3 separate regions of the Homo sapiens genome follow, and all the other regions are linked to region 2. Evidence: fine-mapped expression QTL. A gene starts in region 2. Each other region holds a variant in brackets. All regions are shown on one strand. Distances are between the middles of the regions.

Region 1 (8,178 bases), 67 kb after region 2:
TCCTGGCCTCAAGCAGTCCTCCCACCTCAGCATCCCACGGTGCTAGGATTATGGGTGTGAGCCACTGCGCTCAGCGATAGCTTAATAATTATTATTACCATTTGTTTCAGTTATCTATTCCTGCATAACAAAGTACCCCAAAATTTAGTAGCTTAAAACAACAATTGTTTTATTATATCTCACGATTTTATGTGTCAGGAATTTGGGCAGGGCTTGGCTGGGGAGATTCTTCCGCTCCACACTCCACAAGGTGTTGATAAGGACATTTGATGATATTCAGCTGGCAGATGGGCTGGTCAGGAGAATTCAAAACAGTTTCACCTACATGTCTATTGTATTGGTGAGCATGGCTAAAGTTAGAACTATTGGCCGGGCGTGGTGGCTCATGCCTGTAATCCCAGCACTTTGGGAGGCCGAGGTGGGTGGATCACCTGAGGGCGGGAGTTCAAGACCAGCCTGACCAACATGGAGAAACCCCATCTCTACTAAAAATACAAAATTAGCCAGGCATGGTGGCACGCGCCTGTAATCCCAGCTACTTCGGGGGCTGAGTCAGGAGAATCGCTTGGACCCAGGAGGCAGAGGTTGCAGTGAGCCGAGATCGTGCCATTACACTCCAGCCTGGGCAACAAGAGTGAAACTCTGTCTCAAAAAAAAAAAAAGTTAGAACTATTAACTCAACTAGAACTATTAAACAGAACACCTCCATATGACCTCTTTAGCATAGTGAACTCAGAATAGTCTGACTTCTTACATGACAGCTCAGGCAGCTCAAAGGGCACGGGTTTGAGCGTTACAAGGACCAAGGTTGAGGCTGCATGAGCTTTTTTTTTTTTTTTTCTCCCTGTAGCCTCAACCTCCCAGGCTCAAGCAATTTTCCCCCTTCACCTCCTGAGTAGCTGGGATTATAGGTGGGCACCACCACGTCCAGCTAATTTTTTAATTTTTATAGAAACAGGGTCTCCCTATGTTGCCTAAGCTGGTCTCAAATTTTTTTTTCTTTAGAGACAGGGTCTTGCTCTGTCTTCCAGGCTAGAGAGCAGTGGTGAAATCAAAGCTCACTGCAGCTTCAGACTCTGGGCTCAAGCGAGCCTCCCAACTTAGCCTCCTGAGTAGCTGGGACTACAGGCATGCGTCACCACACCCAGCTGATTAAAACAATTTTGATAGAGACAGGGTCTTGCTATTTTGCCCCAGCTAGTCTTGAACTCCTGGATTCAAGCAATCCTCCCGCCTCGACCTCCCAAAATGGTAGGATCACAGGCACGAGCCACTGCACCTGGCCCTGCAAAGGCTTTTATAACCTAGACTTGGATGTCACATAGAGTCACTGCCACCATATTCAGTTGGTCAAAGTAGTCCAGATTCAAGGCAAGGAGACACAGACCTTACCTCTGAATAGGAGGAGTGTCAAAGAATTTGAAGTTATACATTAAACCCTCCTCACTTTTTGACCCCCAAAAGAAGTTTCCCGGAGGGATGAACTCCAGAGGGATGTCGATGGAACAGTCTATCCTTCTTTCTCTGACAAGGAATTAGGATTATATCTCCTGTGATTTAGAGGCAACCATTTCACACCCTTCCCTGGAGGTGTGCGGGTATAGCCTCACCCATATCCATCCACATGCACACACACAGGTATTCACACAGGCAGATCTGGTACATCTGTGTAGCCAGCCCTCTCTCCATTTCTATCCGTTTTTCAGGTCAAGGAGACCCAAAGTCCTGCCCTAGAGTTTTTCCTGGGAAGTTAATTAACTGACCATTCCTGCTCCCACTAGTGTGAACAGGGGGTGTCGGTAGGGATGAAACCCAGTCAGTCACTGACTGGGGAGTCTGACTTTGATGTGTTCTCTGGGGTGTGCATGCACGTGTGTGCATAAATGCCTCCTGGTTCTGACTGGCTCGAGTCAGTATAGAAGTAAGTTCTGGTGCTAAGAGCAGGCTGGATGGCTCACACACATTCTATAAATCCAAGGAAGCCAAAGTGAGATCCAAATTCTGCAGGGGTCAGCCCAAATCCTCCATCTAACCAGCCCTGCCACACTCTTCCCCATACTCATCCTCTGTCCCATGCGTACTCACCGCTCCCTGATCATGCCACATTCTTCCATTCTTCTGCAGCTTTGCCCATACTGTTCTCTCTGCATGGAATGCCCTTGCCCCCTCTTTTTCCTGACAACCCTAGTGTCTGCCTTTTGTATCACATGATATTGCAATGATCTGTATATATTATTATTATTATTATTTTAGACAGAGTCTCACTCTGTTGCCAGGCTAGAGTGCAGTGGTGTGATCTCTGTTCACGGCAACCTCCGCCTCCTGGGTTCGAGCAATTCTCCTGCCTCAGCCTCCCGAGTAGCTGGGATTACAGGCATGTGACATCACACCTGGCTAATTTTTGTATTTTTAGTAGAGACAGGGTTTCGCCATGTGGGTGAGGCTGATCTCGACCCCTTGACCTCAGATAATCCGCCTGCCTGGGCCTCCCAAAGTGCTAGGATTACAGGCGTAAACCACCATGCCCGGCGATCTGTATATATTAATAGCTCCACTTTCCTCAAGAGCAGAGACCATGCTCTACTCATTGCCATATCACTAGTGCTTGGCACACAATAATTTTCAACAAACACTGGTTGAACTAATGATTGAATGAACAGCTATTGCTCCCAGATTCAGCAACTATTTCTCCTCCATGTCTTTGCTCTGTCCAACTCCACCCCAATTCCCCGGGCTGCTATGAGAAGGGGCAAGGGTCCCAAAGGCTAGAGTGTAAAGTTTGGGCTGCATTCTTGAGGCCCCAGGGAGATTCTGCAGAGTCTCCGAAAACAGGGAAGGATTCCATGTTGTAGAGGTGGGCCCAGCAGGCCCACAGGCCCTCACACCCATAGTGGGAAAAGCCAGAGAATTCTGCAGGGTTTTTCTAATGTTGGGGAGGATGTCTCAAAGTCCGAAATAGCCTGTAAACATTGGGTTAAGTGTTAGGGTCTGCTGGGAATACTTAGACTGGGACTGAGCCAGTACCCTGCTGGAAGAAAATAATTCTGGCTGCTGAGGTGGGGGCAGGTGCAGTTGAAAAAAGCAGTCCTCAAGATCAGTGCTCCTGGCTGGGCGTGGTGGCTCACGCCTGTAATCCCAGCACTTTGGGAGGCCGAGGGGGGCAGATCACTTGAGGTCAGGAGTTCAAGACCAGCCTGGCCAACATGGTAAAACCCCATCTCTACTAAAAATACAAAAATTAGCCAGGTGAGGTGGCTTACACCTGTAATCCCAGCTACTCTCCTGAGGCAGGGGAATCACTTGAACCTGGGAGGCGGAGTTGGCAGTCAGCCGAGGTTGCACCACTGCACTCCAGCCTGGGTGACAGAGCAAAACTCCATCTGAAAAAAAATGAAATAAAAGATCAGTGCTCCTCACACTTGAATGTGCAAATTCCCTGGGAATCTTGTTAAAATGCAACTTCTGATTCAGAAGGTATGAGGTCAGCCCCAAGATCCTGCTTTTCTAACAAGCTCCCAGGTGATGGCACTGTTGGAAGGGTAGAGGAGGGGCCAGAACGCAGTTGGAATCACACTTTGAGTAGCAAAGACCTAGAAAACTAGCATTATGATCCAGACGCTGAGGATTCAGCCCTTAAAGGGAGTAGCTGCCATCAGCAACATCAGTAAGGTGTTCAGAAGATGATGCAGGAGACAATACACAAAGCAAGCCTGACAAAAATCTGGCCCGCGTGCCTACCCTTCCATTCTTTGATTCTGTGACCATGGCAGACATCACTAGTGGATCCCAGCACTATCTCCCACTAAGCCAAAAGGATGCTTCAGAATCCATCTCACCACAGTACTCCAGGTAGTCACCCAATTAATTACAGTTGGCATGAGAAATAACCCCACTTGCTATTTCTGGTATTGTGGTTAAGAGTCTGACTACTTTTGCTCCACTCTGGCTAGTTTGATGCCCTTACAGCAGCTTTCATGAACATCAGTTATTTAAATATGTTGTAATTTGAGGTAAAGAGAGCCCTCATTTTGTAGTTTTGGATGTTAAATGAGGCTGGGTGTGGTGGCTCGTGCCTGTAATCCCAGCACTTTGGGAGGCCAAGGCAGGAGGATTGCTTGAGCCCAGGGGTTTGAGACTAGCCTGGGCAACATAACAAGACCCCAACTCTACAAAAAAATTTTAAAAATTAGCCGGGTTTGGTGGTACACGCCTGTAGTCCCAGCTACTTGGGAGGCTGAGGCACAAGGATCTCTTGAGCTCAGGAGTTCAAGGCTGCAGTGAGCTATGATCACGCCACTGTATCCAGCCTGGGTGATGGAGTGAGATCTCGTCTCAATTAAAACAACAACAACAAAGAACATTAAATGATATTATGAATGTTAAGTGTCTGGCACATAGAAT[G/T]TGCAGATATTCAATAAATGGTGGCTAGGCCTGTCACGGTGGCTCACGCCTGTAATCCCAGCACTTTGGGAGGCTGAGGAGTGCGGATCACTTGAGGTCAGGAGTTTAAGACCAGCCTGGCCAACATGGCAAAACCCCAACTCTACTAAAAATACAAAAAATTAGCTGGGTGTGGTGGTGTGCATCTGTAATCCCAGTTACTCGGGAGGCTGAGGCAGGAGAATCACTTGAACCCGGGAGGCAGAGGTTGCAGTGAGCCAAGCTCCTGTCACTGCACTCTGGCCTGGGCAACAGAGCCAAACTCTGTCTCAAAAATAAATAAAATAAAATAAAATAAAATAAAATAAATGGTGACTACCATGTAGAGGGGTGAATATATTGCCTGCACAGTTTGACAGGACATGGTGGTGGAATGGGAAAGAGGAAGAGAGGGAGACAGGAGCCAGAGTGCTGGGGTGGAGAAGAATAGGTGACAAAGGCTATTCCTGCCTGAGACTGTGGGCAGATTCCCAGCTCTCTTTGGTTGGCCCTGGGCTCCCTACTGACACTAAAGCTCTTTGAAAGAGGTGAGTGGCACTTGTCATCTTGAAATACCTGAGTACAGAACTTCTTTTCAAGGAGAGTTGTGAAAGACTCCAATATGGTCAAAAAGATTATTGTCTGTCCTTGTGTGTTATTTTCTAGTTTTATGGTCATCGAGCTATTTTACCACCCAATCAATGGAAATAATTCTTGTCCATAGAAATGCAAATTGCCTGGTGCATATGCAATTGATTATTGCTCAGTGGTTATTGACCAATTTAGCATCTATTAAGCAGATTTACTTCATCTTTTTTTTTTTTTCTGAGACAGCTCTGTTGCCCAGGCTGGAGTACAGTGGTGTGATCATGGCTCACTGCATCTTCAGCTTCCCGTGCTCAAGTGATCCTCTTGCCTCAGCCTTCTGAGTAGCTGGGACTACAGGTGTGCATCACCATCCTTAATTTTTTAAAATTATTTTTTGTAGATAAAATTTTTTGTAGATTATTTTTTGGATCTCATCATGTTGCCCAGGCTGGTCTTGAACTCCTGGGCTCAAGTGATCCTCCTACCTTGGTCTGTCAAAGTGCTGGCATTACAGATGTGAGCCACTGTGCCGTGCCTACTTAATCACTCTTTTTGTTTGGTTTGTTTTGTTCTAAGACGGGGTCTTGCTCTGTCACCCAGGCTGGAGTGCAGAGGCATGATCTTAGCTCACTGCAGCCTCAATCTCCTGAGTAGCTGGGACTACAGGTGCACATCACCATGCCTGACTAATTTTTTAAATTTTTGGAAGAGACAGGGTCTCACTATGTTGCCCAGGTTGCTACTTCATCATTCTTTTTTTTTTTTTTTTTCTTTTTTTTGAGACAGAGTCTCACTCCGTTCACCCAGGCTGGAGTGCAATGGTGCGAACGTGGCTCACTGCAACCTCCGCCTCCCAGGCTCAAGTGATTCTTATCCCTCTGACTCCCTAGTAGTTGGGATTACAGGCATGCACCCCCATGCCTGGCTAATTTTTGTATTTTTAGTAGAGACAGTGTTTTGCCATGTTGGCCAGGCTGGTCTTGAACTCCTAGCCTCAAGTGATCCACCTGCCTCAGCCTCCCAAAGTGCTGGGATTACAGGTGTGAGCCACAACGCCCAGCCTATTTCATCATTCTGGATGGCCTAAATACGTCTCTGCTCTTTGGATCGTCCTTTGAACTGACTGTAACATCTTACTGGTTCCTTCACTAATTAATGAGTTAAATAAAAATTTTGACACGATTATTGTATATTTCTATGAGAGTAATTATTTTGCTTTGTAAAAAAAACCTTTTTTTTTGACATTCTCATTAACAATGAAGATTGGGCAGGAGGTTTCCAAGACCCTCTGCCCCGGACAAGCTTTTCCACAGGCTCCAATCGCCATTACATCTGTCAGGTTGTTTTTTTTGTTTTGTTTTGTTTTTGAGACGGAGTCTTGCTCTGTCTCCAGGCTGGAGTGCAGTAGCACGATCTTGGCTCACTGCAACCTCCGCCTCCCAGGTTCAAACGATTCTCCTGCCTCAGCCTCCAGAGTAGCTTGGACTATAGGTGCACGCCACCATACCCAGATCATTTTTGTATTTTTAGTAGAGACAAAGTTTCACCATGTTGGTCAGGATGGTCTTAATCTCTTGACCTCATGATCTGCCCGTCTTGGCCTCCCAAAGTGCTGGGATTACAGGCATGAGCCACCACGTCCGGCTCATCTGTCAGGTTTATAGGGGATTACCCCCACTTCATTGCTTGTTTTATGCCATCCAAATAGATACATAATTATTCAATATTTGAGCTGGACACATTCTCAAACATTTATATGAGTTTGTTTAACAAAACATATAACAAACCTACAAGTACCACACCAAATACTTATCCATGTATTCATTCAATGATAGGAAGTTGCATGTGGCAGGGACTGCATTTGTGCCTCTTTTGAGCTTAGCAAGTGCCTAACTCATGGTAAGTACTAAAGACACATCCACTGAGCCAACACATGAATGAATAAGCCCAGCAAGACTTTACTAAGTGTTTACTATGTGGTGAACATTGTTTTAAACACTTTATTTAATTTAATCCTCAAACTAGTTACATGGTAGGTACAATTAATTACTATCCTCATTTACACATAATACAGAGAGGTGAATGAACTTGCTCAAGGTCAACAGCTAGCCATGGCTGAGGCAGAATTCAAGCCCTGGTAGCCTGGCTCCTGAGCCTATGATCTTGGGCACCCATATGCGCCAGGCATCTTGCTAGGTTCTGATATACAGAGATAAAAGACACACCAAACACAGACTTTCCTTAAGGAGGTCACACTGAAGAAAGGCAACAAATAACTAAAAAGAATGTGACGTGCTCTGGCAAGTGAGAACACGATGCTAGGGACAGAGGGTGTCAGAGGGTTGGACAGGTGTGGTTGACGGCAGAGGGGCCACCTGACCTGAGGCAAGTTCTGAGGCTACTGGTAGTTAATGTTCAGATCAGAGGAAGGGAAGAGCATTCAGGCCACTGGTATGGTTGGTCTGAGAAGGTGAGAGTCCCGAGGCCGGAGCCCAGAAGTGCAGAGAAGTGAAACTGGAGAGAGGAGCCAGGTCCAGATCCTGGAAAGCTTCACTTGCTGAGGGAGGAAGGGTGTTGGGATACCCCTTGGAGGCCTCGCAGGACTGTTCGCAAGGGAGATATGAACTCAGATGCCACACTCCACCTGCCCTGCCCAGGACACGAAACCCAGTACACAGAATTCCCTACAAGCTGTATCCCACTCGGGAGAGTTCCCCGGGAGGGCTAGACAGGAGGGCAGTGCTAACTGAGTGTGGGACACAGCCAGTGCCACCTGGGAGCCATGGCTGGGAGTCTCTCTCCAAGCCCTCCCCCACAATCCCTTCAGTCACCCCCCACCCACCCTTGCCAGCTCAGACACTCAGGCACACTCCCTCCGGTCACATCCCCCTTGAGGCCAGAGATAAGAATAAGCAACATGTCTCTTCCCACATCCCTTCCCTGCCCGCCCTCTGATTCTACCATCCAAAGCAGCTGCAGAGCCTGGAACACCCCAGGCCCCAGTCAGAGGAGGGAGCATGGGGAGATGGGAGCTTCCTGGGGGGGCCGTGGCTATGGGCTGTGCCCTCCCCTCCCACAGGGCTGAGGCTGGTGATTAGTTGGGTTAATTATATCCGAGCCATTTCCGATTGGCACAAGCCCACCCACCCACAGAGCCTGCCCAGAAGGCAG
Region 2 (8,178 bases):
TTGCAGTGAGCTGAGATCGCACCACTGTACTTGGCGACAGAGTGAGACTCTGTCTCAAAAAAAAAAAAAAAAAAAAAAAAGAAATGAGTTCTGGCTATGTTGCCCAGGCTGGTTCCAAACTCCTGACCTCAAGTGACCCTCCTGCCTCAGCCTCCCAAAGTGGAATTACAAGCATGAGCCACCGTGCCTGGCCATAAATTTGTTAAGTGAATAAGAGCACACAATTCTTACAGATATTAGGGGCTATGTGATGCAGGAGACAGAACACAGCTTTAAGAGCCAAACAGGCCTGGGTTTTAATCTCACCCCTGCCACATACTATGTGACTTTGGGAAAGTTGCCAGATCTCACCTAAGGTGGATTCTTCATCTATAAACAAAAAACAATACCCACTTTGTAGGCATATACATGTGCAGAACTTAGCAGGAGCTCAAAAAATGGTAGCAATTGGCCGGGCGCAGTGGCTCACGCCTGTAATCCCAGCACTTTGAGAGGCCGAGGTGGGTGGATCACAAGGTCAGGAGTTCGAGACCAGCCTGACCAACATGGTGAAACCCTGTCTCTACTAATAATACAAAAATTAGCCAGGCATGGTGGTGCCCGGCTGTAATCCCTGCTACTTGGGAGGCTGAGAGAGGAGAATTGCTTGAACCTGGGAGGTGAAGGTTGCAGTGAGCCAAGATTGTGCCACTGTACTCCAGCCTGGGCGACAGAGCGAGACTCCGTCTAAAAAAAAAAGGGTAGCCATTACCCTAGGTCTCCCAGGATGCCTGCTGAATAAATATTTAATTCAACGTAACTTCTTGTTTTAAAAGGCGCTTTATGATTATGAAATGTATTTTTGTCATTCTGAAATTATTTTGGATGTGGAGTCTCACATTTTTAAAATCTGTTGGTTTCCTACTTGGCAGATGGGAAAACTGAGGTTCAAAGAAGTAAAGTGACTGTTCCAAGGCTGTATAGTTAGTGGCAGAGTTACAAATGGGTCCAAGTCAATGACCAAGCTAATTTATTTATTTATTTAGAGGTCTCACTCTGTTGCCTGGGCTGGAGCACAGTGGCATGATGACAGCTCACTGTAGCCTCAACCTCCTGGGCTCAAGCAATTCTCCCACCTCAGCCTCCCAAGTAGCTGGGACCACAGGCATGCACCACCATGCCCAGCTAATGTTTTAAAATTTTTGTAGAGACAGGGGTCTCACTTCTTGTCCCAGCTGGTCTCAAATCTGGCTTCAAGCAATCCTCCTGCCTTGGCCTCTCAAAGTGCTGGGATTAAAGGCATGAGCCATTGCATCCTGCCCAAGCTAATTTTTAAAAACTCAGAAATAAATGCTGTATCTATCAAATAACAAATTACATCCTTTAGTTACAGGGCTCCTGTACTCAAGAGGCAGGTTGGCAGAATGAGAAGTGCTGTAGGTAGGCCTGTAATCTGAAGATGCAGGTTCTGGTCCTGTTCACACTCAGGTCCCTCACGTGAAAGGCAAGAGTAAACATGAAATACCGTGATTTCTCCTTATTTCATGTACAAATGCTAGACAAGTGTAACATCTTTGTGGAATCACTTTTCTTCTGGGCTACTATAAACTCTTTTTTTTTTTTTTTTTTGAGACAGAGTCTCGCTGTGTTGCCCAGGCTGGAGTGCAGTGGCGCGACCTCAGCTCACTTCAGCCTCCGACTCCCGGGTTCAAGCCTCAGCTCCTGCCTCAGCCTCCTGAGTAGCTGGGACTACAGGCATGCACCACCATGCCCAGCTAATTTTTGTATTTTTTGTAGAGACGGGGTTTCACTATGTTGGCCAGGCTGGTCTCAAACTCCTGATCTCAGGTGATTGCCCGCCTTGGCCTCCAAAAGTGCTGGATTATAGGCATGAGCCACTGCCCCCGGCCTACTATAAATTTTTGAAGGGCAGATGCTGTCATCTTTTTCCACATTCTCCATAGCCCCTATTATGGTGGTTTGAAATAAGAAAAAAAGTGTGTTGAAGGAATGAAAGGTTGCCTGAGTGAATGGAAGAATGTCCTCTATTTCCTGTTTCCAGCTCCCCAGCTCCCCATCTGCCTTGGGGTGGCTGGGAGGGGATAACTGTCATTCAGACCTGGCCCTAGGCCAGGAAAACGGGTTTGTCATGGAAGGAAATTGAAGATGCTGCGTTTACATTGGAGATTTGCTCTCAATTTCCTATCGGACTGCGAGCTTCCTGAATGGGGTATAGGAGCCTGTCATTCATTTTTGTTTCCACTGCTCAGCTTCCATGTTTGGTACCGGCTCTCAAGATGCTTTGAGATGGACTAGGCAGGAGATCTGAGGATCAAAAGCTCAGGCTCAAATGGAGCAGAGAGAGCACAACATTCCCATCCTTAGACTGCTCTGAGAGAAAATGGGCTTGCTGGTGGAATAGAGATGGGTGGGCTGGAAATGGGATGCACAAAAAAAGGCATATCCCCCTCGACACCCACTCATGCCCCAATTTTGAAGGAAAATTTTCATCCTGGTGTAGGGAAAAGGCAAATTCCCCAGGATGTAATAAGGAACATTTTCAAGTTGTAAGAAACCGGAACATCTTTATATCATTCATTCGATCAGGAAAAAAAAATTTTTTTTTGAATCCTGTCAAACCTGGATCCCTTTGTATCCATCTACTTAGAATATTTTTTCCTTCTCCCTACTCCTTTCCTCTTTTTGTTATTTTTCTTCTTCTGCTGTTGTTGTTTAAAACAATTCTTTTCTATATTGGAGCAAGAAACATTTCACCAGACTGTGAGGATTTGGCCCATACTGTGAAGCAAAGGGGCTTTCTAAACTCAATTTTCTTTCTTCTTTTTAAGTCCCCCCTTTCCCCTGTCCCTCGGGAGAGACAACAGAAAATAATTGATCCATCATCCAGTATCAGGCCCAGGAGATTTACATGCAAATTCCTCCTCGACCCCTTTCCAAATTTAAAATCCTAGAAGGGAAAAGAAAAATTCTAAAAGTAGCAGGAACCCTGCTGGCCACACCCCACCCCTTACCAGGTGAGAGATGTGGAGGGGATAATTCACCACAACCCCCCAGTTTCCTCCCGCGTCACACACGCCACCCCTCTCTGGTGTGGAACCACTTAAGATTTGGGTAAAACTCCCCTCTCGCCCTGGAGACGGGATCTGGAAGCTTTTAGGGGGCGGAGGTAGAGGTGGGGAGGCAGAAGGAAAATTCCCTCAAACGTTCGTCAGGCCTAAGAGAGTCGTCCCTTCACTCAAAATTGCCCGTCACCCCCCGCCCCCCACCATTAACTTTCGATTAAGACCTCCTCCTTAGGGCAACTAAACTTTACTTTGCACAATTAAGATTTGCCGCAGAAGAAGCGGGAGGGAGAAGCCGCAGCTCCGGGCCATTCTCCTTTCCCTCGCTCCCTCCAAGCCCCCCGCCCCAACCCTCCAGCTCCGGGCCTCCGAGTTCCTGAGTTTTCTCACTTTGAGGTGCCACCGAACACAAAGAACCATAATGGGCTCCTTTGTGTTGGCTACGGGGCAATTACGCCTCGGAGTCCTGGTCCCTTTAAGAGTCTCTTAAAGAGACAGGATCCCATTTTTCAGAGGGTTTTTTAAGGGTGTGTGGAGGGGGAGGGCGAGGGATCTACGTGTAAAGTGAAGTGAAACTTTCGCCTGGGCTCCAGAAAGAGCGGACAGAAAAGGTCTTTGTAAATTGTTAGTTTTTTTAAAGTCTGTTTTAATTTTTAAATTTGAGATTTTTCACTCGATTTGAAAAATTGGACTAGGAATAGGTGGGGTTCGAGGATCGGGGGCGGGGGCAAGGGTTTAAAGAGTCCCCACCCGGCAGAGCACCTCGGCCCGGGAAGAGGAGTGAGCCAGGGTCGAGTAGTGTCCCCCGATCTCGCCGCGGCAACTCCGGAGAAATCCCGGGCTGGGCAAACAGCCCTTAATATAATAATAGCTTGTCTCTTTAAAAAGCAAAAGGGGGGGAAAGTTTTGTTGGCATCTGGTTTCTGATCTCATTATGTTGTGGTCGACCAATCCAGCCCTCGGGCCTGGTCCTCGGGTTTAAATCTGATTGGCCGAGAGCACATTTTGGGTTGGTGCTTAGAGCTCGACGGGGCGGTTTCAAGGATCCCTTTTTTGGGGGGCTGAGGAGAGGGCGGGGCCGCCAGCGGGGGCCCCCTTGAAACCGACTAATTGGGATCGGAGAGGCCGAGGTGAGGGCTGGAGGAGGCACAAAGAAGTCGCTGGGTGCAGAAGGGAGGGGAGAGGGGGAGCTGAGAGGCGAGAGGAGGAGGAAGAGGAGAGAGGGCAGCAGCGCGCGGTGTCTCCGGCTGCTCAGTCCGACCGCGGCAAGCAAGCGGGCAGGCGCACCGCCCCCTCCCCCGCCCGGCCTCCCCAACTCTGCGGCCGCGAGTAAAGTTTGCAAAGAGGCGCGGGAGGCGGCAGCCGCAGCGAGGAGGCGGCGGGGAAGAAGCGCAGTCTCCGGGTTGGGGGCGGGGGCGGGGGGGGCGCCAAGGAGCCGGGTGGGGGGCGGCGGCCAGCATGCGGCCCCGCAGCGCCCTGCCCCGCCTGCTGCTGCCGCTGCTGCTGCTGCCCGCCGCCGGGCCGGCCCAGTTCCACGGGGAGAAGGGCATCTCCATCCCGGACCACGGCTTCTGCCAGCCCATCTCCATCCCGCTGTGCACGGACATCGCCTACAACCAGACCATCATGCCCAACCTTCTGGGCCACACGAACCAGGAGGACGCAGGCCTAGAGGTGCACCAGTTCTATCCGCTGGTGAAGGTGCAGTGCTCGCCCGAACTGCGCTTCTTCCTGTGCTCCATGTACGCACCCGTGTGCACCGTGCTGGAACAGGCCATCCCGCCGTGCCGCTCTATCTGTGAGCGCGCGCGCCAGGGCTGCGAAGCCCTCATGAACAAGTTCGGTTTTCAGTGGCCCGAGCGCCTGCGCTGCGAGCACTTCCCGCGCCACGGCGCCGAGCAGATCTGCGTCGGCCAGAACCACTCCGAGGACGGAGCTCCCGCGCTACTCACCACCGCGCCGCCGCCGGGACTGCAGCCGGGTGCCGGGGGCACCCCGGGTGGCCCGGGCGGCGGCGGCGCTCCCCCGCGCTACGCCACGCTGGAGCACCCCTTCCACTGCCCGCGCGTCCTCAAGGTGCCATCCTATCTCAGCTACAAGTTTCTGGGCGAGCGTGATTGTGCTGCGCCCTGCGAACCTGCGCGGCCCGATGGTTCCATGTTCTTCTCACAGGAGGAGACGCGTTTCGCGCGCCTCTGGATCCTCACCTGGTCGGTGCTGTGCTGCGCTTCCACCTTCTTCACTGTCACCACGTACTTGGTAGACATGCAGCGCTTCCGCTACCCAGAGCGGCCTATCATTTTTCTGTCGGGCTGCTACACCATGGTGTCGGTGGCCTACATCGCGGGCTTCGTGCTCCAGGAGCGCGTGGTGTGCAACGAGCGCTTCTCCGAGGACGGTTACCGCACGGTGGTGCAGGGCACCAAGAAGGAGGGCTGCACCATCCTCTTCATGATGCTCTACTTCTTCAGCATGGCCAGCTCCATCTGGTGGGTCATCCTGTCGCTCACCTGGTTCCTGGCAGCCGGCATGAAGTGGGGCCACGAGGCCATCGAGGCCAACTCTCAGTACTTCCACCTGGCCGCCTGGGCCGTGCCGGCCGTCAAGACCATCACCATCCTGGCCATGGGCCAGATCGACGGCGACCTGCTGAGCGGCGTGTGCTTCGTAGGCCTCAACAGCCTGGACCCGCTGCGGGGCTTCGTGCTAGCGCCGCTCTTCGTGTACCTGTTCATCGGCACGTCCTTCCTCCTGGCCGGCTTCGTGTCGCTCTTCCGCATCCGCACCATCATGAAGCACGACGGCACCAAGACCGAAAAGCTGGAGCGGCTCATGGTGCGCATCGGCGTCTTCTCCGTGCTCTACACAGTGCCCGCCACCATCGTCATCGCTTGCTACTTCTACGAGCAGGCCTTCCGCGAGCACTGGGAGCGCTCGTGGGTGAGCCAGCACTGCAAGAGCCTGGCCATCCCGTGCCCGGCGCACTACACGCCGCGCATGTCGCCCGACTTCACGGTCTACATGATCAAATACCTCATGACGCTCATCGTGGGCATCACGTCGGGCTTCTGGATCTGGTCGGGCAAGACGCTGCACTCGTGGAGGAAGTTCTACACTCGCCTCACCAACAGCCGACACGGTGAGACCACCGTGTGAGGGACGCCCCCAGGCCGGAACCGCGCGGCGCTTTCCTCCGCCCGGGGTGGGGCCCCTACAGACTCCGTATTTTATTTTTTTAAATAAAAAACGATCGAAACCATTTCACTTTTAGGTTGCTTTTTAAAAGAGAACTCTCTGCCCAACACCCCCACAAGGTTTGTAATTAAAACTGTAAATAGTCTTTGTAAATTTAATTATATATATTTTCTATTTAAAAGAAAAAAGGAGAAAAAAAAACAGGGGTGTGGGCGCCAGGACTGAAGAATGAGGTGTGTGTGTGTTGGGGAGTGTAGTTGGGGGGAGGGTTCTCTTTCTTAAGTGCCCTTCAAAACCCGCCCCACTTTTGGAGTTTTTTGGTGATATGGCAGGGCTGGGCCTGATGGGAGAGGCACCCAGCCTGAGCGCTGTTTTTGTTGGCTTTGAGTCGTTAGGAGTTTGTTCCATTCAACTAATATAAAAGCCAAATTTGTGAGCCTCCTCTCTGACGCTGGGCCTGTGGAAGCCGTTGGATATTTTTGAACAGGACTTGGATTCGTTTTGTTTCCTTCCCCCTTTTCTTTCCCTACTCATTTGTCCTGTCTTCTTCACTCACTCTTGGAAAAGTCCCAACAGAGATGAAGACGTGGAAAAAAAAATCGGGGTCGGGGTGTGCTGGTGGGGAGAGGGCAGAGATCCGGTGAGGAATGGCTTCCACCCCCTGGCCCATTCCCCTGCAGGCTGGAAGATCTTTCTCCTGTCTGGCTTCTCTTCTTTTCAATTCGCTGCACCAAGTGCTTCCAGTGGCCCAAAAATGCTTTTTGAAGTGTGTTTTGAAACAGCCCCCACCAACATACACCCCACCAGGAGTACTGATCCTGCCTCCCTTCATGTCTAGGGGAAGCATTCGCCTTTGAGCACTTGTTTGCAAATCTGGGGAGTTTGAGACCTCCTAGCATCTCTTCCCTTCTTTCCCTGCAGTCTATTCACTCCCGCAGCCAAAAATCTCTGGCGTTCAGGTTAGCAGTTTCTGGGTTGGTTTGTGTGGGTTTTTGTTGTTGTTTGGGGCTTATTTTTTTCAAAAAGTGATAAAGACGGGTGGGTTGGAGGGAGGGGACTGATGGGCTGGTGGGCTTTTTAGTTTTCCTTTGAGAAAAAGACTGGTTTATTTAAAATTTGTCCAGAAAAAAATGAAAAAAAAAAAAAAGGTGGTATCTTTGCTTTAGAAGAAGTCTCTGGATAGGCCCTTTGTGGCTGTGGGGGTGGGTTGAGTGTTTACATTACATTCTATATCACAAGATTGATAGGATGTTTAAAGCAGATGTTTCTTATCTTCCCCTGAGCCCCTACAAATAAAGTCAAGACTTTTCTTTTTTTGAGACGGAGTCTTGCTCTGTCGCCCAGGCTGGAGTGCAGTGGTGCGATCTTGGCTCACTGCAACCTCCACTGCAGCGTTTCTCCTGCCTCAGCCTCCCAAGTAGCTGGGACTACAGGCGCACGCCACCACTCCTTGCTAATTTTTGTATTTTTAGTAGACACAGGGTTTCACCATATTGGCCAGGCTGGTCTCGAACTCCTGACCTCGTTATCTGCCTGCCTCGGCCTCCTAAAGTGCTGGGATTACAGGAGTGAGCCACAGTGCCTGGCCTGTCAAGACTTCTCTTAAGTTAACTTCCTGAGAAGTGATGTCTAAAAGTATCTTTGCTGGTGTGAGAACTCCAGTTTCCAACACATATTATTTCCCTCAACTATTTGGAATATTTTAGAATTTTAATTCCAAAGGATTAGTTTGAATACAAGTATGCCACATAACTCAGTTTTCGCCATCTTCCATTTCTTAACAGTGTAAATTAAAAGCTAATAATCATAATAATAAAGTGCATTTAATTATCTTTGAGAGATCTATCCTTTTAATTGTATTTAACAGGGTTGTAACATTTTATTAGTTTAACCAAACCACACCTCCTCCTCCCCTCTCTCC
Region 3 (8,178 bases), 53 kb after region 2:
TCTGTGTCGTAGGAGAGAGGGAGAGGGAGAGAGGGAGAGAGTGTGTGTGTGTGTGCATCTGTGTGTCTTGCCTTCACCATCAGATGAGGGGGTTTCTTAGACAGAGGGTATGTCTCCACCATCACACTGGGCGTTCCTAGAGGACAAATGGTGTCTCCCTTCGGTTAGAACAGGAGCTTCCTGAGGTCAGGGACTGTCTTCCCTACTAGACTGGGGTTCCCTGAAGGCAGGAGCTGAGCCTCCAGAATTTTGTGGGTCTCCTTCCCACCTCCGCAGTTCTCTTCAACTGAGACAGCCCTGGTGTTAGACTTTAACAGGAGGAGGCCCTCAGAGTGCCTGGTTCAGAGACCACCTATGACAGAAATGCCGCTGGCATTTGAAGCCACTGGGACTACCACCTCGGGACATGATTGGGGATTCTCGGACAGCTCTTATTCTTTGCGCATCCCGAGATTTCCATTTGTTGTCTCAGTAATCACCAGCCTTGGTGTTCTGTGGTTCCTGTTCCACCAACCCTCCAGGGAAATCCTCTCTGAAGTTTTGAAGAGAACTCACCATACCTAAGCTGACCCTCTGAACAAAGGGAGGCTTGTGGAAACAAGGGGTTAGAGGAGAGGGTTTTCTTCTTCTCCTTCACCAAGGCTTCTGGGGATGGCTAAGGCCGATGACTGTCTCTCCAAAGCCACCCTCCACCCCGCCCCTGTCCCGCGTTGACCTTCCTTCTAATATACCAGCCCGAAGTCACACCTTCTCCCAGGAAGGGTTGGACCGCAGTTCAGCAGAGGCCGTGCAAGCGAACCCTCTCTCTAAGGAATGGTCATGGCGTCTTCCTCCCTGTTTCCCAAACGGGGTGCTGGGATTTTCGTCACAGGTCCCAACTTTCCCAAGTTCCAGTAGAATTCTTCCTGGAACCTTTCTGGTATCATCACCCTGTGCATCTAACAGTCTTAGCCCCCAGCTGGAGATGTGGCAGGGCCTGAGTGAGAGCAGTAAGTACAAGGGGACCTCAGCTCTGTACCAGATGTACCAGAGCATCCCCCCACAGCTGTCTATCACACGGCGCTGGGCCTGACAGGAGACAGGTCGCTGCCAAGATGGCATCCTGAGAACACACATGTAACAGGCGGGCAAGCGGTGCTTCCTCTGCCACCCTCCATGGCACCAAGTTAGAACACTACTATGAGGTACATAGGACAGACCCAATGCCCATCTGTGGATAAAGGAAGTAAGGCTCAGAGAGATTAAGCTGGGCTCAGTGGCTCACGCCTGTAATCCCAACACTTTGGGAGGCTGAGGTGGGTGGATCACCTGAGGTCAGGAGTTCAAGACCAGCCTGGCCAACATAGTGAAACCCTGTTTCTACTAAAAATACAAAAAATTTAGCCAGGTGTCATGGCGGGCACCTGTAATCCCAGCTACTCAGGAGGCTGAGGCAGGAGAATCTTTTGAACCTGGGAGGCGGAGGTTGCAGTGAGCCGAGATCGTGCCATTGCACTCCAGCCTGGGCAACAGAGCGAGACTCTGTCTCAAAAAAAAGAAAAGAAAAGAAATAGATGCAAGGCCCCATGCTATTCAGAAGAGCTGGAACATCATGCCAGGCCTACATTTGGTTTCAGTGTCATCACCCTTTGTGCCACATCTTACAGCAGTGCCAGCTTGGAACCAAACTCAGGCCCCCAGACTCCCAGCCTACTCCCAGGAGCACTGTGTGTAGCTGAGCAGGTCATACACTGCACAACCCCAGGATTGTGCTCCTCACATTGAGGTCAGGGCAGATGGCGTCCCCTGTAGCTGTTGCAGGACATGACCCCCATGGCTCCACGTGGAGGTCCTGCCTCCACACTCAGTCCTCAGCAATCTGTGCACACATTCAACACTTGGGCCACACAAATCCATCCCCTCCTTCTCCTCTTCTCCCACTAGCCAGAGTGGCAGGCAGCAGGAGCTCTTGGGGGCAGGTGGGGATCCCTGAGGAGTGTACACACCACCTCCCAGGACCACCATGTGCTCCCTGCCTCTCCATGTAGGAGCGCTTTCTGCCATACCCCCCATACCCTCTGTACCTCCCCATACCCCAGTTGCCCCCTCACTGTGCCCACACCCCTGCCTCCACACTCATCCCCACACACATGTGGGTACATACACCCACACACACATGTGCACCATGCAAGTGAAGTGCAGGGCCCCAGATCTCCAAGCTCCTGTCTGAGACTCCACCAAGCAGGGGGCTGAGGGCTGAGGGCTGGGGGCTGGGGGCTGGGGGCTGGCCTCCCTTAGCAGAGCCCTCTCCCCCTCTACTCGTGTGCAGGGCCCTGGCCCCTCCCGGGGAACAAGGCTGGGATTAATAAGCGGCCTGGCTCTCTCCCCTAATGGGCTCCAGCTGCACAAACATTCCCAGAATTCAGAGCCGGCTCTGTCTGGGGCGGCCCAGGCCTCAGCCCCAGCATTCCTGGCCCCCTCCCCCAAGGCCTGGGCCAGCTGCTCCGGAACTCCAGCAACTGGCTGGGGATCGAATCCCAATTCAGCTTCTCCAGAGGTGGGGGGCAGTGGAGTGACTGGGGCTGGGGTGGGAGGTGAGGGGACAGGAAGAGGTGAGTAAACTCTGAAAGGACACCTCCCTACCTGCCCTTCCCCCGCCTGCCAGGCCCACCCCTCCCCCAACACTGCTCACACCCTTAGCCTAGGTGCCAGGGCCCAGCTTGGTCTTCCCTAATTTGTCTCACCAGGCAGGGCCCTTGGCTGGCAGTGCCAGGAGGAGGTAACCCAGGCAGGGCTAGGAGAAAAGATAAACATCTCCCCTTGTGTTTTAAGAGATCCAGCTGGGTCTCCATGGAGTCTATGGCCTGGCAGCAGCTTAGTTTAAACAGATTCTTATCAAGCAGTGGGAAGGGGTGGCAAAGGGAGCAAGAGGAAGAAGGAAAGTAGGGGTTCTCACCCTCCCATTATCCAGCTGGGAGTGACACTCAGGGCCCCAGTGGGAGGAATCCTAAGTGGACAAAGATGAGCCCGTGAGGATGATGGCTCTGAACCTGTCTTCCCAGATCCCAGGCTACAGGGGTCAGTCATTCCACTGTCCCTGATCTGTCCTTGATCTGTTGCCCCCAGTTACGCCTGCTGTGGACACCAAGGGCTGAGGCCATGGAAGGAGTCCCATGACTCCTGTTGGTGCCAGGGTCCATCTGAGCAGGGACTAGTGGAGAGCACGCCACCTAACAGAGGTGTGTGTGGCTGTGTGTGTGCCTGTGTCTCCCTGGCCAAGCGGAAGCAGCTGAGTCAAGTAGCACCTGCATGTGGATGTGGCAGTGTGTGTGCGTGTGCCAGTGCACGTCAGCCTCTCTGTGTTCAAAAACGCCGTAAGCTCCACGCTCACTCAGAAAGGCTGCCTGCTGGCCACCCCTCCCCGAAGCTGCAAGTGTCCCTCCCACGGGGCATGCGCCAGAGAGAGGCTGAGAAGAGAAAGTAGAGGACAAACAAAAGAGAGGTAGTGCCGGGAGTGGTGGCTCACGCCTGTAATCCCAGCACTTTGGGAGGCAGAGGCGGGCAGATCACTTGAGGTCAGGAGTTTGAGACCAACCTGGCCAACATGGTGAAATCTCATCTCTATTAAAAATACAAAAATTAGCTGGGCGTGATGGCACACGCTACTTGGAGGCTGAGGCAGAAGAGTTGCTTGAACCAGGGAGGTGGAGGTCGCAGTGAGCCGAGATCACGCTACTCCACACCAGCCTGGGCGACAGAGTAGGACTTCGTCTCAAAAAAACAAAAGGTTGATGAGGCGAGAGCTCTGAGGGAGGCTGTGCGGGCAGCTGAGGCACTGACTTGGGAGTTAGGAAACATAGGTCTTGGCCTCAACTCTGCCAGAGACCAGCCAGGACGTTGGATGTTTCACTTCCCTGATCAGTATCCTTCCCTTGAATAAGAGAAGATTGGACAAGAGTCTCTCCTGAGTCCCTTCTTGGATTCCACTGTGATGACAGCTGGGTTGGGGGACACGGGAGGATGCTACATCCTCTCAGAGCTGCAAGAAAGGGGCTCTGGAGGGGCCACCAAGAGCAGCCTATAGGGACTGCGTAGAGGGTCCCTAGTCTCTCTGGCCCTGAAGAGGAAATTGAGAAAGGGGTGTGCTCCCTGTCTTGGGGAGTCCCGTTCTGCAGGGAAACCAAGTACACCACAACATGGAGACAGATAAAGGCAGGTGATCTCAATTGGCTGAGCTCTTGGCGGCCGTCCTGGGTTGAAGGGGAAGAGGGCCATTGAGCCAAACAACAAGGATCTGTTTACTCTCTACTCTCTTTTTTTCACGTGCACACAGCAAACACATGCGGCCCCTCCTCAGGCCTCTGCAGGCCAAGGAATGCAGACCCACCGCTCCAGGTCTTGGTCCCCATCAATCACACTGCCCATGCATGTCACATCACCTGCTTCCTTGCAGTTCTGGCCATTTCCCCATGGAGGCACAGAGGGAATGACACTCTGACAGCATTTGAGCCCTTTAACTCATCATTGATCTGTATCTCCACTCCCCACCCCACCCCCAGCTATGGGACCAGCTCCTGAGCTGCAGGGAAACAGTAAGGTGAGACCTCCTTTGCATACATGGAGAAACTGAAGGGCTCTGGGTGGGACGGGAACTCAGGAATTGGACCCCATTTAGGACTCTATCCAAGTGAGCCTCATCTAGCTGTTCATCTGGCATTTCGTGAACACCTACTTTGTATTCAGACTTGTGTTATTAATAGAAGCTGAATAATACAAAGAAATAACATTTCTCCCAGGGGTATCAAATCAGAGGAAAAAAAATCCTTCCCCCAAACCAAAGGTGGACTGGAACCTACCATAGACTGACCAAAGAAACAGAGCCATCAACATGCTATTGAATTTTAGAGCTGTTTATTTGGGCACCAGAGAAACAGCAGACCAGATGCCTGAACTTCCCAGGCTGAAGCTCTGGACTACAAAGCTGTAGACGCTTAGCAAGGAAACAGGAAAGGAGGGAAGCAGC[C/T]GGCCATGGTTGTGAAATTCTGAGGTCTAGAACCCTAAGGCAACAAACTGAACCCAAAGCCTCTCTCCTCTACTCCCCACTCCCTTCATTTTTCAGTTATCTATTGAGTAAATAATCCACCCCAAAACTGAGTGCTTACAACAATACAAGTTTTTCTTTTCTTTTCTTTTCTTTTTCTTTTTTTTTTTTTTTTTTTGAGTCTTGCTCTGTTGGCTAGCCTGGAGTGCAGTGGCACGATCTCAGCTCACTGCAACCTCTGCTTCCCGGGTTCAAGCAATTTTCCTGCCTCAGCCTCCCAAGTAGCTGGGATTACAGGCATGTGCCATCATGCCTGGCTAATTTTTTTATTTTTTATTTTTTATTTTTAGTAGAGACGGGGTTTCACCATGTTGGTCAGGCTGGTCTCGAATTCCTGACCTCAGGTGATCTGCCCGCCTCGGCCTCCCAAAGTGCTGGGATTACAGGCATGAACCACCACGCCCAGCCAATAATACAAGTTTTTCTTTGCTCACAATTCTACAAATTGGGCAAGATTCAGTGTGGACAGCTTGCCACACTGGTTCTGGAGCATCCAAGATGCTTCACAAATATATCTGGCCCCTCTGCTGGGACGGCTGGAGGAGAAGGGGGCTGGTTGGGGCTCTCTCTTTTCCTTCATAGTCTCTCATCCTCTGGTGCTTCTCCCTCGCTCTCTTTCCCTATAGCTCCCTCTCCTCCAGGGTGGCCAGACCTCTTTACATGGTGACTGGCTTCCAACAGGGAAGAAGTAGAAGTTGTCAGGTCTCTTAAGACCTAGACCTCAGGTTGGGCGCGATGGCTCACGCCTGTAATCGCAACACTTTGGGAGGCCAGGTGGAAGGAACACTTGAGGCCAGGAGTTTGAGACCAGCCTGGGCAACATGGCAAAACCCTGTCTCAAAAAAAAAAAGAAAAGAAAAGAAAGAAAAATTAGCCAGGTGTAGTGGCACAGGCCTGTAGACCCAGCTACTCAGGAGGCTGAGGTGGGAGAATCACTTGAGCCTGGGAGGCGGAGGTTACAGGGAGCTATGATCACACCACTACACTCCAGCCTGAGTGACAGAGACCTGTCTCCAAAAAAAAAAAAAAAAAAAAAAAAAGACCTAGACCTCACCTGTCAGGGCATCAGTGTTGCTGCCACCATTGGTCAGAGCAAATCACAGGCCACCCTGGATTGATTGATTTATTAAGTCAGAGTCTCACTCTGTCACCCAGGCTGGAGTGCAGTGGCGCACTTGGCTTGCTGCAACCTCTGCCTCCTGGGTTCAAGCCACTCTCATGCCTCAGCCTCCCGAGTAGCTGAGATTACAGGTGTTCACTACCACGTCTGGCTCATTTTTCATATTTTTTGTAGAGATGTACTTTTTGTTGGATTTTGTCATTTTTCGTATTTTTTGTAGAGATGGGGTTCACCATGTTGGCCAGGCTGGTCTCAAACTCCTGAACCCAAGTGATCTACCCGCCTTGGCCTCCCAAAATGCTGGGATTACAGGCATGTAATCAGGTGCCCGGCTCCACCCTGGATTTAAGGAGACAGAAAATGCACTAACGGAGCAGCATGCGCATGAGGGGACGGCATTGCTGGTGGCCCATCTTCGCGGACCACCCCGCCATCCCCCTAACTTGGCTCCCCTTTTGTTCCTCCTTGGCACACTGAAGCACTATCTCCTCTCTGGAGTGTCGTCCTTCTTCTTCTCCTATACCCCATGTCCAATCAGTCCCCAGGTTCTGTTATTGATGCCTCCTCCATGTCTCTCAAATCATTCTTTTTCTTTTCTTTTCTATTTATTTTCTTTTCTTTTCCTTTTCTTTTTGTTTTGTTTGTTTGTTTGTTTGTTTTTTGAGACAGAGTCTCGCTCTGTTTCCCAAGCTGGAGTGCAGTGGGGCGATTTCGGCTCACTGCAAACTCCACCTCCCGGGTTCAAGCAATTCTCCTGCTTCAGCCTCCTGAGTAGCTGGGATTACAGAGGCGTGCCACCATGCCTGGCTAATTTTTGTAGGTTTTTTTTTTTTTAGTAGAGACGGGGTTTCACCATGTTGGCCAGGCTGGTATTGAACCCCTGACCTCAAGTGATCCACCCGCCTTGGCCTCCTAGAGTGTAAAATCATTCTCACAGTCACTACCATCCGCTGTTATCCAGAATGCTCAACGGCTTCCTAAAGGGTCTCCTGTTTTCACTCTTGCTTCAATACCATGTTGCTTTTCAACTTGCAGCCAAAATGAGCATTCCAAAGGCTACACCTGTGGGGTGCTGGATGGCCGGGGACAGGAAAGTCAGGGGGATTTGTGCTTTAATATGTGCTCTTTTGTACCATGTGTGTACCTTTGCAAAAACTAAAATGACTTTTAGGGCCTGGTGCAGTTGCTCACACCTGTAATCCCAGCACTTTGAGAAGCCGAGGCAGGAGCATCGTTTGAGCCCCCGGAGTTTGAGACCAACTTGGGCAACACAGGGAGACCCTGTCTCTACAAAAAAAAAAAAAAATTATTTACGTAATTTTATTTTATTTTATTTTTGGAGACAGGGTCTTGCTCTGTCACCGAGGCTGGAGTGCAGTGGCACAATCTTGGCTTACTGCAACCTCTGCCTCCCGGGTTCAAGTAATTCTCATGCCTCAGCCTCCCGAGTAGCTGGGATTACAGGCATAAGCCACCGCACCCAGCCTTACACAATTTTTTTTTAATTAGCTGGCCATGGTGGTGGTGTCCCAGCTACATGGTGGAGGGAGGGTGGGGGCTGAGGGGGGAGGATCACCTGAGCCCAGGAGGTCAAGGCTGCAGTGAGCAGTACATCACTGCACTCCAGCCTGGGGCAACAGAGTGAGACCCTGTCTGAAAAAACAAAACAAAACAAAACCCCCCACACACAAAACAATTGACTCAAAATCAAATTTAATAATAAATAAAATAAACCAGATCCTCACTGTGTCACTCTTCTACTGGAAACTCCTCAGTGATGGTCCATGGCTCCCAGGATAAAATCTAGACTCTCAATGGAGCTTAGATACCTTTCAAGATCTGCCGCGCCTGGCCCTGCAGGCACTCTTCTCAATTTTGCGCTCTATGTTCCAGTCGAGCCGAACTTCTCTGAATTTCTTGCATTTCCTTGAAAGTACAAATTCTCTCTTGCTTGCAGCTTTTGTACAGGTGACTGCTC

Evidence for each region. PIP is the estimated chance that this variant, and not a neighbour inherited with it, causes the effect.
Region 1: its variant is fine-mapped to the expression of FZD2 in whole blood (INTERVAL, PIP 0.93).
Region 3: its variant is fine-mapped to the expression of FZD2 in whole blood (TOPMed, PIP above 0.99). The same link has a PIP of 0.9 or more in blood mononuclear cells and monocytes.

Annotation. Positions count from the first base shown.
Region 1 is chr17:44,619,768-44,627,945 of GRCh38, forward strand. No RefSeq gene overlaps it. Among named protein-coding and RNA genes, the nearest start is that of LINC01180, 26 kb to the right of the region's middle. The variant G/T (reference allele first, on the strand shown) is at 4,402.
Region 2 is chr17:44,553,169-44,561,346 of GRCh38, forward strand. FZD2 (frizzled class receptor 2) reads left to right here and starts at 4,316. Exons shown (of 1, transcript NM_001466.4): 1 at 4,316-8,094. The coding sequence starts at 4,521. The coding sequence ends at 6,218. RefSeq lists enhancers at 2,811-3,580, 3,581-4,348, 4,566-5,526 and silencers at 4,023-4,122, 4,521-4,767, 5,013-5,062.
Region 3 is chr17:44,606,090-44,614,267 of GRCh38, forward strand. No RefSeq gene overlaps it. Among named protein-coding and RNA genes, the nearest start is that of LINC01180, 40 kb to the right of the region's middle. RefSeq lists an enhancer at 1,348-1,959. The variant C/T (reference allele first, on the strand shown) is at 5,003.